Linked DNA regions of Homo sapiens: region 2 is linked to region 1. A link means that fine-mapping ties the variant in region 1 to the expression of a gene that starts in the linked region. Tissue or cell type: prefrontal cortex. Region 1 holds a variant in brackets; the other region holds the start of a gene. All regions are shown on one strand. Distances are between the middles of the regions.

Region 1 (5,374 bases):
TTGATCTCCACAAACCCTTATCTTAATCCAGACACTCCTTTCTAATGGTAGTAACTCTTTCAACCAATTGCCAATCAGAGTATGTTTAAATCCACCTATGACCTGGAAGCCCCTCGTCCCCGACTTAGAGTTGTCTCACCCTTCCAGATGGAACCAATGTAAATCTTATATGTATTGATTGATGTATTGTATTTCCCTAAAATGTATAACGCAGGCTGTACCCCATCCACCTTGGGCACATGTCATCAGGACCTCCCGAAGCTGTGTCGCAGGTGTGTCCTTCACCTTGGCAAAATACACTTTCTAAACTGATTGAGACTTGTTTCAGATACTTTTTGGTAGACAATGTCATTCAGTCCTGATCAAAGTAGTTCAGTTTAGATAAATTTATGTACAGGGAGATAGTCCAGTTCAGTTAAGAGCATAGGTATTAGAACTCAGCTAGACCTGGGTTCAAATCTTTTGCTCTGTAATTTATTAGCTGTGTAACTTCAGGCAAGTTACTTAGCTTCTCTGAGCCTCACCTTCTTCTTGTACAATATGGGAATAACAGTGGTAGCTACCTTATTGGGCTGAAGATTAAATGAGCTAATGCATATACATGCTTTATGCTGTACTGGTAACTAGTTACATTTAGTTGCTTAAACATTAGGTAACATTAAGTTATCAAAATGGTTTTACAATGTATCATGTGATACCTATTTACATATGATGTAAAGCAAAGCATACCCCCATTTATTATAATAATAGCCAATAGTCTATTTTGAGCTGATGAAGATAGGGGTGGCCTTTTACCTTATGTTCTGTATCAGGGCCACATGTCATAAATGCCCCATCTCTGGGTGGCAGCACTCAGACCTGTTTGCTTTGGCTTTATGGCCCTCTCCTTGGTTGCGTTTCAGAAAAAACTCGCCATGGCATGAGTCTGCCTCTGTGTCATAGAGATAGGAAGGGAGAAGAGACTGGATTCAGCTCATTTTCCTGTGTATCACCGGAGCAGCCAAGCACAAAGCCTCACCACGCCTGTGGCAAACCCTGTTCCAGGCACCTGGGAGGTGGGCCAGTCTGATGGCAAGGTGTCTAAATGCCACTTCTCTTTGCTAACGTTCCTCCTCATCTTGGCCCAGATCCCTGGCCTCACTGGCTATTTTATTCTTAGGGTAGAGTCCCCCCAGCCCCACCCCTACAGACCTACAGGACACAGTGACTAGGCAGAGACCCCGGAATCTGAATTTTTATGAAGCCTGCCCCCGGCCCCAGGTGATCCTAAAGGGCACCCTGGCCTGGGAACCACCATTGAGGACCTACAGCCATTGCCTCTCTCCTGAGGGAGGAAAGGGGGCAGAGGTCTTACCTGTGTCTTATCAGTGCCCTCCCTTAACTGTCCTCCTGGAGACACCCCTGCAGGTGTCCTTCCCAGGGAGAAGTTCAACAGAAAAGCCCTGAGGCTGTGGGAGGGCACCCATTCCTCTAACTCAGGCCTTTCCCAGGAAGGACAGAAATAGTGGGAAGAGCAGGCCAGATTGTGTGGACTGGGGGCTTTCTCTCCTTCTCCAAGGATTCCTAAGTCAATTCAGCCTTCCAGAGTGGCATGAGCTCTGGCAGAGCCTGATGGAGACTTGGGAACCGGGGTGACAGCCTGGCCCTGAAATGCCTTCATTGTGAGGCTCCCAAAGAGAAAAGTTTTTCCAGTCTCCCACGTGCTAACGCCTCTTCTTCAAATCCGTTTCTCATCCAGAAGACCAGTGTGTTTGTTCAACATAGCAAAGTGTTTTCTGAGCACCTGCTCTGTGCCAGGCACTGAGCAAAGACAGGGATGCTGAGATGAATCACACATCTCTGAGCACTTCTGGTCTCCTGAAAGGCATTTCAGAGTGAGTTCTGAGGATCCACAGTAGCAAAACAAGCTGGGGTTTGTTAAAAGTGTAAACATCCGAGCCCTCAAAACCCAGGTCTGCAGAATTTCAGAGAGCGGGGTCCACCTGCAATTTCGGAGGGCCTCTTATAGAGTCTCATTCACTCTAAAGTTTGTGAACCAGTGGAAATTAGCTATCTAAAAAGGCCAGGCGTGGTGGCTCATGCCTGTAATCCCAGCACTTTGGAAGGCCAAGGCAGGTGGATCATCTGAGGTCAGGAGTTCGAGACCAGCCTGGCCAACATGGCGAAACCCCGTCTCTACTAAAAATACCAAAATTAGCCAGGCATGGTGGCAGGCACCTGTATTCCCAGCTACTCGGGAGGCTGAGCCAGGAGAATTGCTTGAACCAGGGAGGCAGAGGTTGCGGTAAACCGAGATCACACCACTGCACTCTAGCCTGGACAACAGAATGAGACTCTGTCTCAAAAACAAACAAACAAAAATGTAGTGACCTCAATTTTATGTTTATTGTATGAAATATATACAAATAAAAAGAAGGAAATTAAAACCACTCATTCTGATCCTACTTTCCTAAGATAATCATTGTTGGCATTTGATGAAATATCCCTCTAGGGGTATGTGTGTGTGTGTGTGTGTGTGTGTATTTAGACATATATTGTAGCATCTACATGGTAGCTGATACTGTGCTAGCCCCTAGGGACAGATGAGATGAGTAAAAGAGTGGTCCTGCCATATGGAACACCTGCAGTCATGTTACATGATGCCTGGCACAGACAGCTTGAAATCCAGCCTTGCTCACCTGCTCTTACCTTTTTCCCACAGGTATACATAATCAATGTGACCTGGTCTGACTCCACCTCCCAGACTATCTACCGGAGGTACAGCAAGTTCTTTGACCTGCAGGTGAGTTTGTCAGAGCTCGGACAGTGGCCCAAGTCTCTCTGGTGGGCTGGCCTCTCTCATACCCTCGCTTATCCAGGGAGCCCCCAAGAGAGCTGTCAGGGTCAGAGTCCAGGTGGGAGCAGAGGGACAGAGGAGGGAAGCTGGAAGGTGGAGCTGGGCTCGTCTCAATCTTGCATACTGCAGGCAGACACTCAGGACTTTGTTGGCCTCCTCTGATGGTCTTAACAGTAACGCTTTGTCACCCTCCCTTGCCTGCAGGGTAGGAAACTGTGGTGAAGAGG[C/G]GGGAGGATGGTGGGAGGTGCTGTGTGCCTGACCAGACGTGTGTCTATAAACATCCAGGGTGAGACAGAAGCCACTGCATCATTGCAGGCAAAGAAAAGCAAACACTCAGGGAAGACCGAAACAGAAAATAAGCAATTTTTTCAACTACAGGCACAAACTAGGCATACATACCACGGTGTCTGTCTGACCGAATGAGGCACTTGCCACCCAGTTTGTACATGTACGTGGTAGGTGTGTGTCTCTAAGACACAAAGGCATGTTCACAAGGGAATGGTAGTATGGGTCCCACAGCTACCCCTGCAGACACCCCCCTTGATGCCAGCTAAGTTAGTCAGGCCTCTTTGGGTTGCAAGTGATAGTTTTACAATTGCACTGGCTTAGACACAAAGGAGATGTGATTGGAAGGAGGGACCAGGGAAGCTTGTGCAGCCGACCACATGGTGAGAAGGGCAGTGAGGCAGAGGCTTCAGGAATGCCTGAAACCAGGATCTGCTCTCCCTCTGTCTTGTCTCTGCTTCCCTCTGGCACTGCCCTCAGCTTCTGTTACCTCACACCCTGAGGAATATGGCTGTCAGCAGCTCTAGAATTTTATATCTTTTGGCTCCCAACAGAGGGGAAATTGACTCCCAGTTCCAAGTTGAAAAATCCCAGGGACGATTTTGATTGGTCTGGCTTGGGTCAGATGCCCTCTCTGGACCAATCAGTATGGCTGGGAGTTGAGGGTCTTTTAGCACAGACATGGCCACTAGGGAGCCCACCTCTGCGGATCACAGGCAAGTACTAGAGAAGGGAGAATCAGTGTGAGTTGAGCAGCAGCCCTTTCAGGTAGAGCCAAGATGTTCTAGATTCCTCTCGGGGTTGTGAGCCTGGTTTAGGCCAATAAAAACACAAAGAGACACTCACTTCTACCCTCACAGCCAGGGTCCACTCCTTTCTTGGCAGGCCTTTGGTTGTCAGTCATCTTGGAGAGGTCATCTTGGGTACCGTGTGCTTGCCCCCAATACCTAATTCTATCTCATTGTCCTCATTGCCCTACCTATGAGACAAGCCAAGGGTGACCTAGCTTCCTGTATTACAAATCCTTTCTTAATCCAACAATGTGGGATTGAATATCCCATTGAATATGGGATTGAAAGCCACTCCCTACTCTCCAGCCTTCTTCCTCTTCCCTCCTCAATTCATGTCCAGTCTCCTTAATTCCAGTGTAATCTGGTGGGGTTTGCTGATACCCCATCAATGGGTGCAGTGTGCTGGACAGGAAGTGATAACTCAGTTGGGGAGAGGGAACCCTGAAAGGACTCATTGATGAGCTGGAGGGGGCCTGAAAGCCAGTGGAAACTTCCAAATCAGAACTTTTCTTCCCCCTCTTCCCTTATGGTCCCCCACCCACTCCTGCATTGCAGAATCTCAGGAGAAAGGAATGCTGCTCCCCCACCACCACCTCCCTTGCCTGGAGGGCTCATTCCCTGTGTGTGGAAAGGGGATACGCAAGCAGGGAGCAGCTAGTGCAGTGTGCTGGCCCTAGCTTGGCAATGGCCATGAGCTTGGCCAGGCTTGTCCACGTGGGTCATTGCTGACCTGTAGATGCAGTTTGGGAAGGGGTTGGAATCGTTCTTTGGAAATTAACTTATGAGCCAAGCATAGCATCTTTACGAACCCATTTTACCTGCCATGATGAGTTTTAGTGGCGTTCATTTTGAAAAGCCTTGCTTATTTATCAGGTCGCTGATTTTGGTATGGCGGATCCTATAGAGGAAGAACAAAGGGAGTTGCTAACTCCATCTCTGGTCATTGGTGCACCTCAGAACTCATGTCCCTGAGAGATTGTGTAAGAGAGCAGCTTAGAGTTTAGGCACTGGGGGCACATTCCCTGGGACCGGTTACTGGCTGTCACCACGTAACTCCGGACAGGCTCCTTCACTTCTCTAGGCTTGCTTTTCTCATCTGTAGTGTGAAGGTTCAAATTGCCTGCCCGGTAGGGTTGTTAGGAGGAATGAATGAGTGAATCCACGTTTCTCCCAACACTTAGTTGCCTAGTGAGTTGCCTGGTGTTAGCAGGTTGCAGGGATGTTGGGCTGCATGGCTGGGGGGCGTCTAGGGGCTGGAGACCCACTCACTGATGTTGCTTTGTGGCTTCCCTCACTTGGCGTCACTCTGTGGTGAGCTCCCTGTGCCCAGTCCCTGCCGGCGTATTCAGAGCCAGGTAGGCCTCAGGCTCCTCTCTGAAGCTGTCCTCTGGGGCAGGGTGGGAGCCCGCTGGGAGCTGGGGTGTGGCCCAGGGGCAGCTCTCAGAAATGTTTTGCTCCTTTC
Region 2 (5,374 bases), 55 kb after region 1:
TGGGAGGTAACAGAGCGAGACTCTGTCTCAAAAAAAAAAAAGAAAGAAGAAAGAAAGAAAGACTTCAGGAAGAAGGGCTTCGGGCAGGGTCTGAAGGTTCTGGTGTCTTCTCACCGTGAACATTATGGTCCTTGGCCTTGGAGGTCCAGGAACTCAGGCATTTCTGAATATGCAACTGTAGTGGCTTCAGTGTGCTCTGTGTGGCCATTCAGTCTCTTTGGCACCTTTCATAACCCCACCCCAGGGACCTCCCAGCATGCGTCCTGATGCACGTACCCACTGGACTCCCTTCAGCTTCTCAGATGTGCCTGTCTCTTCAGTCTCTGGGCCTCTGCTCAGACTCTCCCTCTACCTGGAACACTCTTCCCGCTTCCCTTTGCCTGTCTCACTCTCTCCACTTCCTCAGCCCTGTCTCCCTCCTGCGTGTGCCTATGACAGCCAACACATCACAGCGCAGTGCCCATACACAGTATCCTTTGCGAGGGCAGGGACCGTCACCATCACAGCCCAGCCCCCAGCACAGTGCCAGCATTTGGGAGGGAGTGAATGGGTGTTGCGTGTTGCCCCTTCTTTCAGGGATGGGGTAGGGTTGAGATGTACCCCGTCAGGAAAGCTGGCCACAGGTTGCACAGCCCGGGGCTCAGGGAAAGGAAGGAAGATAGCAGAATCATTAGGAGCCTAGGCATGTTCAGTCTGCCCAAAGAAAGAGACTGTGGCACACCCAATCCCAGCTCCACCACTTCCTCGCTTTGCAACCCTGGGCGGGGCACTCAACTTTTCTTACCTTCAGTTTACTCATCTGTAAAGTGAGAATAACAACAGCACCCAGTATGTAGCTCAGAGGTTGTTATGAGGATCAACTGTCATAATAAATATAAAGTACACGGCACAGGGCTTAGCACATACCAAGTGCTCAATGAATGTTACGTCCTCTTAATGTTACTGTCACCATCCTTGCAGGAGATGGGTGGAACCACAGAAAATGCTGGTGGGAGGTTGATGAAGAGAGTTGACTGTCTGGGCTCAGTTTTGCCAACAGAACCAAAGCTCAAGGAAAGCAGGCTTTGGGACAGGCGCGGTGGTTCAAACCTGTAATCTCAGCACTTTGGGAGGCTGAAGTGGGTGGATTGCTTGAGCCCAGGAGTTCAAGACCAACCTAGGCAACACAGTGAGACCTCATCTCTACAAAAATAATAAATAAATAAATAAATAAAATGAAAGCAGGCTTTGGTGGACAGTGTCCATCCCAAGAGAGCCAGGCAAACTCCCCTGTGGCTGGCCTGGCCAGGCCTGTGGTTTTGGGCCCTTTACCGACAGGCCTCTGCTTCCTGCGGCTTTTCCTCTGTCTCAGAGCCTCAGAAGTGAGTGGGTGTCTTTCAGCATCATCACTGCGACCCAGGACTTCCATCTGCCTGCCCCACAGCCTCCTCATCTGGCTGGGCCATTCTGCAGTGTTTCTCTGAGCTCCAGAGGCCTCGTGCCCCTCGCCAAGCCCCCCACACTGTGGACCATGCCACAGGGAGAGGCTGCCAGGAAGCTCTGCCCAGCGTCCCACCGTCTTTCCTGAGGGCAGCCTCCCCTGGAGGGAGGAGCCGAGGCTGCACAGGCTGAATGGGGCCCTTTATTCCCGGCTCCCACAGGGAGGGTACAGAGCCACTGCCCACCACGCCCACCACACCCACGCCCACATGGAGGGGGTACAGCTTGGCCCTGATGCCGGCCTCTGAGCTAACCACACTCTGGCCCCACTGTGTCTGCGTCCTGGAGGGTGAATCCACCCCTCTCCCCAGCTCTGGCTGAAGCTGCCGTCCCTAATGTGTGGGGTGAGCTGTATTTGCTAGTCTGCCAGGGGTCTGGGGGTGTGTAAATGAGAGACAGCCTAGAGCAAGCCAGTGTGAACACACACTCACACTCACTCACCTTTCAGCAAGTCGCGGTCGGGGTCCCTGTGTGCCCGTCCTTGTGCTGGGCCCTGAGGATACGTTCGTGGGCTTCACTGGCTGCAAGAAGCTTGCATTCTGTCCTTAGGGAACGCTGTAAAGAGGCAGGTTCAGAAGATCATTATCAATGGTGGCAGATTCTGGGAGGGAAACAACGGAGGCCGGAGAGAGAGGGCACATGGCCACCAAAGGCCTCCCAATGAGGGATGCAAGGCAATGGCTGGGCAAAGGGCAGCAGGAACAGTGCTCCAGGAACAGGAACAGGGACAGCGAACACACAGGCCTGAGGTGGGGAAGAGCAGGATGTGTCTGTGGCGTGGGCAGAGTGACAGGAGATGGGCGGGCGGAGAGAGAGGCAGGAGCTGAATCCTGCCCGGCCACAGAAGGGAGTTTGGATTTTATCCTCAGTGCCCTGGGCAGTCACTGAAAGGGTTAAGCAAGGGTTATGGTTTGAGAATATTATTCTGAGGCCAGGCGCAGTGGCTCACGTCTGTAATCCCAGTACTCTGGGAGGATCGCTTGAGCCCAGGAGTTTAAAACCAGCCTGGGCTACATGGTGAAACCCAGTTTCTACAAAAAAATACAAAAAATTAGCCTGGTGTGGTGGCGCATGCCTGTAATCCCAGCTACTCCGGAGGCTGAAGTGGGAGAATCACTTGAACCCGGGAGGCAGAGATTGCAGTGAGCCGAGATCACTCCCCTGCACTCCAGGCTGGGCAACAGAGCAAGACCCTGTCTCAATAAATAAATAAATAAAAATAAAAAAGAAAGAAATGGTTCTGGTCCCACTGCTCTAGAATGCTGCTCAAAAAGACTTCCATTCCATTTGGTTCAGCAAAGATGTATTAGTCCCTCCATGGGCCTGGGACTAGGTGCTTTATCACTAGCAGACACCCATAAAATCCCAGTTGACCCACCTGGGGTGAGGGAGAGAAAGATACTGTTCCCTTCAGCCTGGCTCTGCTTACTGGGTATGGGAACCTCCGAACCAGAATTTGGGAGATCGTTCTTCCCTCCAAGGTGCGCTGATGCTTTCTGCAAGCAAGCCGTGGCTGCAGGAGGGTGAAGGCTTCACTCTGTCGTGAACCCCAGTGGGCTTTTGCAAGTGTGTTTCCCTGGGCGTGTGGGAGAGGGAGTGGGGAGTGCTGGAGCGGGCAGACACACCTGTGTGAGTCACCCTAGAATGCCCCTAGGGGGCGGGTGGAATGAACAATTGGCCTCCTTGCCATTGTGTCACGTCCTCTGCCCTCTGAGTTGGGCCTCCGAGAAACGGAAGCCGTGTGGGAGACACAGATGTGTTTATGGGTTGGGTGAATCAGGAAGGGCAGCCGCAGGCTGAGGGGAGCTCGTGTTTGGCCTTGGTGGGAAGCCAGGTGGATGGACTGGGTGCCTGGGAAATGCTTCTGGTACTTGGATTCCACGTGGCCAGCAAGGAGACAGGCAGGGCCCACCCCACCCCATCCCACCTCCTTGACCTGGAAGTGTCAACTCATAAGAGATCCCATTTGTTCACCATTTGCCATGGGCTGGGCTCCATGCTAAATGCTTTTACAGACTCATTCACTGGCTCCTCGTAATAGTCCTTTGCATTAGACATTACTGCCTCCCATTTTGTAGTCTGAGGAAACTAGCATTCGAATAGGTTATGACTCATCCCCTGTCACATAACAGTAACTGGCAGAGCCAGATGTACCAGTCAGGACTCTCCTGGTGACAAGAAATAGACCCATCTCAATCTGGCTTAAGAAAAAAGGGGAAACTTATTGGTTCACATAACTGAAAACCAAGAGTAATGGTTTCAGGCATAGCTGGATCTAGGGGACCAAATCTGTGTCTCTTAAGCCCTCAGCTTTGCTGTCTTTTCTGTTGACTTAATTCTCTGATAGGCTTCCCCCAGGTGGTAACAGAGATACATAAAGATGCTTCCTAGCAGCTTGGGGCTTGGCATTTATGAGTTAGCAGCTGTAGAGAGAGAACACATCTCTTCCTGGTAGTTCCAGCAGTAGTCCCAGGCTGATTCCCACTGGACCAATGTGGGTTGCATGCCCATGGCTGGACTGTACTTAATGATCAGCCCCAGAGTTTGGGATGGGATCAACCCCACTGAAATCCCATGGACTGAGAATGAAGGAGGGATTGTTTCCCAAAAGAAAATCGGGCACTGTAATAATTAAAAGCTGGCAGACAAAACCTACCAATGTCTACCATGCTAGACTTCAAGCCAGAGGCAGCATCTTGGCTCTAAAGAGAGATTCATGGGAGCCAGAACTCAGGGCATGGTGTCAGTATGCCTCAGGCTGCTGACCTTCGCTATGGGGATTGTGTCTTTCCGGAACCTGCATGTGCCCACTGCTTCCAGCCTCAGCATCTAGGCCTCACTCCTGCCTTCCCCCAGCCCAAGTAAATGGCAACAAAGCCAGATGTTGCAAGTGAAGAAGGAAGGATTGGGTGTCAGGGTGTGATCTGAGCCAGGTACAAGGCTGTAGACTCTGGGGATGTCATCTCAGCTGCACCAGAAGCTGGAGGCAGCCCAGCAGGGGAAGAGGTGACCTGCAGTCCCCAGGCTGCAGAGGGTCAGAGGTGACATGTGAGTTTCAGGGGCAGCACTTAAAAAGACAAGCAGGGGCCAGGTGCGGTGGCTCATGCCTGTAATCCCAGCACTTTGGGAGGCTGAGGCGGGCGGATCACCTGAGGTCGGGAGTTCGAGACCAGCCTGACCAACATGGAGAAACCCCATCTCTACTAAAAATACAAAATTAGCCAGGTGTGGTGGCACATACCTGTAATCCCAGCTACTAGGGAGGCTGAGGCAGGAGAATCGCTTGAACCCGGGAGGTGGAGGTTGCGGTGAGCCGAGATCATGCCATTGCACTCCAGCCTGGGCAACAAGAGCGAAACTCTGTCGCAAAAAAAAAAAAAAAAGACAAGCAGGGGCCTGCCATTCAGCCACTCCCACCCTAGCCTAGGCAGGGCTAACCCAGGTGAAAGCTGGGTGGCCCCATGGTCAGGAAACAGCTGAACATCAAGAGCAGGGCCAGCTTTCAGGAAGACAGGGGAGCCAGTAGAGGCTGTTCCGCCGTTCTTCTCCCCTGCCCATTACATCCAGTTCCATCAAGGCCTCTCTGCTCTATGCTCTCTTCCCTAGCGAGACCCTGTTATTGAGTGAGAAGCCGGTGCCTGCTCATACTCAGGTGTGAATGGTTAATAAGGCTCACTGTACCATTCTCCAGGAAAAAGTTGATATATCTTGACGAAAATCTTAAAGAAACTAAATTCTGATTCTGCAATCTCAGGCATCAAAGAAGTAGATTGTGAGTTTGTTTGTTTTTAGAGTTGGGTATTCTTAGGGCCCAGGGCATACCCTCTTGGTGTCTGCTTGCTTTAAACCATCAAAAGTCCCAGCCTGGGCCAGGTGCAGTGGCTCAGGCCTATAC

Which allele goes with the higher level. Alleles are on the strand shown, and positions count from the first base shown. SD is a standard deviation of normalised expression in the study named.
In carriers of allele G in region 1, the expression in prefrontal cortex of the gene that starts at base 2,238 in region 2 tends to be higher than with C alone (moderate effect, 0.60 SD a copy in GTEx).

What was found. PIP is the estimated chance that this variant, and not a neighbour inherited with it, causes the effect. A credible set is the group of variants that fine-mapping cannot tell apart.
Region 2: it holds the start of SH3PXD2A-AS1, and the variant in region 1 is the best candidate, but not a certain one, in a credible set for the expression of SH3PXD2A-AS1 in prefrontal cortex (GTEx, PIP 0.88).

The regions. Positions count from the first base shown.
Region 1 is chr10:103,798,690-103,804,063 of GRCh38, reverse strand. SH3PXD2A (SH3 and PX domains 2A) reads left to right here. Exons shown (of 15, transcript NM_001394015.1): 2 at 2,702-2,782. Among named protein-coding and RNA genes, the nearest start is that of SH3PXD2A, 54 kb to the left of the region's middle. RefSeq lists enhancers at 1-291, 3,292-3,793 and a silencer at 2,983-3,062. The variant C/G (reference allele first, on the strand shown) is at 3,064.
Region 2 is chr10:103,743,643-103,749,016 of GRCh38, reverse strand. It overlaps SH3PXD2A-AS1 (SH3PXD2A antisense RNA 1), which reads right to left and starts at 2,238. Exons shown (of 3, transcript NR_038940.1): 1 at 1,921-2,238. The region is part of intron 3 of SH3PXD2A (SH3 and PX domains 2A); the gene reads left to right. RefSeq lists enhancers at 1,254-1,754, 1,755-2,255, 2,672-3,193.